Regions from separate parts of the Homo sapiens genome. Here region 2 is linked to region 1. The links come from fine-mapping of genetic effects on gene expression. Tissue or cell type: whole blood. Region 1 holds a variant in brackets; the other region holds the start of a gene. All regions are shown on one strand. Distances are between the middles of the regions.

Evidence for each region. PIP is the estimated chance that this variant, and not a neighbour inherited with it, causes the effect.
Region 2: ADAM19 starts here. The variant in region 1 is fine-mapped to the expression of ADAM19 in whole blood (INTERVAL, PIP above 0.99).

The regions. Positions count from the first base shown.
Region 1 is chr5:157,492,614-157,495,370 of GRCh38, forward strand. ADAM19 (ADAM metallopeptidase domain 19) reads right to left here. Exons shown (of 23, transcript NM_033274.5): 15 at 2,074-2,182; 16 at 360-564. Among named protein-coding and RNA genes, the nearest start is that of NIPAL4, 34 kb to the left of the region's middle. The variant T/C (reference allele first, on the strand shown) is at 1,610.
Region 2 is chr5:157,574,680-157,577,179 of GRCh38, forward strand. ADAM19 (ADAM metallopeptidase domain 19) reads right to left here and starts at 1,096. Exons shown (of 23, transcript NM_033274.5): 1 at 924-1,096. The coding sequence starts at 1,017. LOC124901121 (a long non-coding RNA gene) reads left to right here and starts at 300. Exons shown (of 2, transcript XR_007059018.1): 1 at 300-691; 2 at 1,601-1,931. RefSeq lists enhancers at 1-321, 558-637, 2,495-2,500 and a silencer at 808-1,247.

The sequences.
Region 1 (2,757 bases):
TCATGTTTTCCATAGTTTCATTATCAGAATCGACTCTGGAGGATAGAGTCTGTGCTATTATTTTGCTCAGGCTTCCCTAACTCCTAGTCCATTTTTAATTCCTATGATAATTAGCGATGAGGATGAAAGTGGCACTAGCTAGGCCACCTAAGTGCTTTACTGGGATGATTTTCTTTAATCCTTCCGACAGTTCTCTGGGGTGGGTGCCTGCTGTCACTATACACGCTTCATGAAGGGAGCCACCAAGGCTCAGAGGTTGGCGAGGTGGCATCTGAGCCCAGGCATCCTTCCCTCAGACCTCACTTCTCAATCACTCTGCTCTGCAGCTGGCTCCTAGGTGAGCAGGGGAGGGGACTCACATGGTTGTAGCCACACTTGGTTCCAGTCATCACCAGCCCTGGGTCCAGCATGTCACCCTCCTCCTCAGGACCTCGGTAGACGTGGGTGCCCCGGCACTGGATCTGCCTCCCATTCATGATGATAGTGGTGTCAATGGGCACCGCGTTGGACTCCAGGGGCCGGGCCTCAGAGCTCTGACACTGGATCTTCCCACACTTCGCATCTCTGGGCACAAGAGACAGAGAGGGAAGGAAGCGGAATCAGAGGCAGAGGAAGAGCTGGGGCACCAGAGAGCTTCAGTCTTTCTTGATCAAGACAGCAGGCTTGCGTGGGGTGGGGCAAAGGTTTAGGGCAGTCATGTGCTTTGGAACCCACCAGGAGAGATTCCATGTGGACTGACACCAAGGGAAGAGAACAGGCTCCTTGACCCTGAGCAAATCTAGACCAGAGAACTGGCCTCGAAAAGTCCTTAACTCCAAGAATAGCCACCTGAGCTGAGCAATCTTTCCCTTTTTGCCCCTTATACCGCTGTCCACCCAGGAGTTCCAGCTAGAAATCTGGGGTCATCTCCAACTCCCCATTCTCCCTCACTCCTGGGCTCAAGCCATTTTCAAACCCTATCAATCTTCCCTCCTTAATTATCTATCTTATTATCTATCTACCTTAATTCACACTGCCCCACCCCCCTTACCTGGTCTGCAGAAGATTGATTTCCCTGCCTCCAGTCTGCCTCATAGGAGTCTAATTTTCACACTGCTCTCAAGCTAAAATCTAAACTCCCCTAGCCATGCATTTGAGGCTTTTCATGATCTGGTCCATGCTAAACTATCCAGGCTAATTTCTCAGCAGACCTTCTCCTTTGCACCCCAACATTATACTTTAACTGTATCAAACTGTTCTCAGTTCTTTCAACCACCAGTTTTTCTCTATTCATCTCTCTTCCTGGATTACTCTCCTATGCACCAGCACCACCTTCCACCCTGTTCACCGAGGTAACTGCTCCAGATCTCAGTGTAGGTATAACTTCCTTTGGGAAACCACTCTGACACACTAAGATGGGTTGGATGGCTCTCTCCACATTGCCATTGTCATACTATATTGTTAATTAGAAGTTCCATGCACTCAGCACAATATCTTGCACATGGTAAATCTTCAATAGATAGTAGATAGACAGTAAATCTTCAATAGATAGTAGATGGATAGATGGACGGACAGATGGATGGATGGATGGATGGATGAGTGGGTGAGTGGGTGGTGGAGGATGGATAGA[T/C]GGATGGATCAGTGGGTGAGTGGGTGGTAGATGGATGGATAGATGGATGGATGGATGGATGGATGGATGGGTAGACAGATGAGTGGATGGTTGGTTGGAATGAATGATGAATAAATGAATGAATGAGTGAATTAATGAATGAGGAGCTATTCAAATTAGGGCATGATTAGAATTTGGCAGAAATGACCCAAAAGGGCTGATTCCCTGCCCTACTGTAAGATGGTCCCCAAAGGAAGCCCGATCAGCTTTCTAGGAAGCACTGCCACCCACACCCTCCTCTGACTTCCTCAGAGCTGAAAAGTGCATTGTCAAACAGGGGGCCGAGAATAGATGACTGACTTCAACTGATTGACGTAAAGGTGCAGCTCTGGGGCCAGTCACACTGCTGAGTTGGGCAACAGTGAGGACAGAGCAGAAACTGCTTGTTCATCCTCATTTCATGAGGCCTGCCCTTTGGTCATCACCTCATGTTGCACTTCCTGTGTTCACCATTCATGTCCTTTCCACAGTTTCCAAAGGTGTCTCCTGCCACATTCACCTTCTCGAAGCAGAGGTCAGGGGCAGGTCGGGCTCCTGGGTGGGCAAGCAACATCTATCAGTATACTCATCTGTCAGAAGCCCCCAAGGGCAAAGGTATCTTTGGTAAAGTCATGAAGGTAAGAATATTTTCTGGGAGGGAATACTCAGCCTCTTCTTCCTGTTCCCTCCAGGTTACTCCATCCCCATATTCTCAACAAGATCTACTCAGAGAATAATGTTTTATATAAATCCTTTTTTTTTTCTTTCAGATGGATTCTCGCTCTGTCACCCAAGCTGTAATACAGTGGCACAATCACGGCTCATTGCATCCTCCGCCTCTTGGGTTCAAGCAATTCTCTACCTCAGCCTCCCGAGTAGCTGGGATGACAAGCACCCACCACCATGACTGGCTAATTTTTGTATTTATTTATTTATTTTTTTTGTAGAAATGGGGTTTCACCATCTTGGCCAGGCTGGTCTTGAAGTCCTGACCTCATGATCCCCCCGCCTCGGCCTCCCAAAGTGCTGGGATTACAGGCGTGAGCCACCACACCTGGCCTGTTTTATGTAAATTCTTCCTACCTTATTGAGGATTTATATTTGTGTGTGGGGAGGGTTGCATGCTAAGC
Region 2 (2,500 bases), 82 kb after region 1:
ACCCGGGCACCGCCCCCCGGGACCAAGCCTTCCGCGAAATCTGCTTATAGCCCCCGAGGGATGGAGCCGGGGAGGGGATTGGTGTCTGGGAAACTAGTCCTGAGAAACACGGACATCACCCGGCATCTTAGCTGGAAACATCGAGTCAGACCCCTTCGCTTCACAGAAGGGGAAACTGAGGACCAAAGAAGGCGGCCGTCGGGTTGGCGTGGAAAGAGAGCCCTGGTTTCCAGTGCCACCGCGGACCTCAACCCGTGGCGTGGCCTTGGGCAAGTCCTTTCCCTTTTGTGGGCCTCGGTTTCCCCATCTGTGAAATGGGTGCGTTTGACTTGGCCTTCAGTAGGGCTCCTGCCAGCTCGGGGATCCGAAGTGTGTGGCTGCAGATACCCAGCGAGCCATCCCCTAGCCAAGGCTACCACAGTCTGCCGCGGGCATTTTATGTCCTACCCCACCAGTGTGGCAGGCACCGAGCCTGGTCCCAGGAAGCCGCTCCCAGGCCACACGGGCAGGGCGCTCGGGATGCTCGGCGTTGGCGAGTGCAGCGGGCGGTAGAGAGAAAGACAGAGAGAGAGGCGGAGCGGACACGAGGGACCGTGAGAAAACGGAGGAGGATAAGCCCCGAGAACGGCGGAAAGAGAAGCCAAAAGCAGAAAAACAGAGGAAGGAGAAGGCGAGAAGGGAAGGCTAGCCAGTGAGCGGACCGGCTGTTTTCTGGCTGCGCCGGGTTTCCCCGACCTCTGCCACCTCCCAGGGCGCAGAACGTGGGAACAAAGCCCGGGCTCCCAGGCTGGGGACGGCGGGGGCGCAGGCCCCGCGGAGTTGCGGGAGGCGCAGGGGTCGCGGTCCCAGCGCTCCGGACCCGCAAGGCTACTCCCAGGTCTCCGGGCCACCCAGCCTCCATCCCCCCGCGCCTGGCCACTTACTTGTCCATCCAGGCTCCCGCGCCGCCCGCGGCCGGAGGGGCTGCAGGGCAAACGCCAGCAAGCAGAGCCGGGCGGCGCCTGCGCCCCCTGGCATGGTGGCGGCGGCCCTTAGCGCTCGGCGCTCACACGCCCTCAGCCATACCTGCCCACTGCCCGGCGGTGGAGGCGCGTCTGGAACCCCCCGGCTCGCCCCGCGCCTCCCCACCCGGCTCCCAGCCCTCTGCCGAGACGCTCCGCCTCCAGCCCCGCGGGCCTCCGCCAGGGGATGGAGGAGGGGAGGCTCCAGCCCGGAGGGGGCTGGAGGGAGGGGCCGGGGAGGAGCTGGCGAGACTCGGGGGAGCGGGGCTGGCTCAGGTGAGGGAGACCGCGGGGAAGGGAGAATCCGAGCCCCCCAGGAGGAGGGATTTGTGGTGGACGCGGCCTGTAGAGGGTCGGGGACTCGGGCTTCTAGGAGTTAAACTGGACCCCTCTCCGCACAGCGGCCCGTTTACTGTCCCGCACTGTGCCAGACGCCTTGGGTGACACTCAGAGGTGATTCACCCAGCGCCGTCCCCCGGGGGCCGCCACTCTCGGAGACAGGCTCAGAAAGAGTTAACCCAACCGCCAGGCACAAAGAACTAAGTGCTATATGGACTTCTTTTTTTTTTTTTTTTTTTTTTTTTTTTTTTTTTTTTAAGCAGGACACAAATCCAGGAGCCATTCCTTCTGCCTGGGAGGAGGGAGTGATGAAGACCAGAGGAATCCCAGAGGAGAAGCCATCTGAGATCGGGAGGAGGAGAAATGGAACATCAGGCGGAGGAAACAGCCCAGACAATCGCACTGGGACGTGAAAACCCTTGGGCTGCATGCGGGGAGAAAACCAGAATTGGGGATGGTTAGGGTTTTGGAGGGAAACACAGGGACATGTGACCAAAAATAATAATAACTACTGTTACTTATTGAGGACTTTCTATGTACTAGAATAAGAAAATCATGATAGCTAAGACTGATAAAACGCTAAGTGTCAAACGCTGTCTTCAGCACTTTACACATATTCACTTATTTAATTAATCGGAGAAAATAACTTTTATGAGCCAGGGACTCTGCATACATTATCTCTTTTCATTAGCCCAGTAATCCCATGGGGTAGGTACTAGTACTATCCCTGTTTTAGAAATGAGGAAATCAAACCTGAGAGGCTAAACCACTTGCCCAAGATTACACAGCTAATGTCAGTGCCTAGATTCAAACCCACATCCGTATAACTCCAGAGCCTGATGCAACACACCTTATTTTCCAGGTGGAGAAACTGATAATGAGAGAGAAATGACTTGCCTAAGATCCCTCAGCAAGTTTTAGCAAAGCCTCGTTGTAGAATCCCAGCCTCAAACCTCGTCCATCTGTTCCTTTTTCTGAGCCTCTTTAGTCAAACCCAGGTTGACTAGAGAAGTGCTAAGTGTTGGAGAGGGCGAGGCACTCCTGAAGATGATGGGTAGGTAGGTCTATCAAACCCTACTCATGGGCACCCATGAGGGAAATCAAATAAGTGGTTCTGGCCATTAATGTCGTTTGGGACTCCGTTAGTCTCCAGCTGCTGT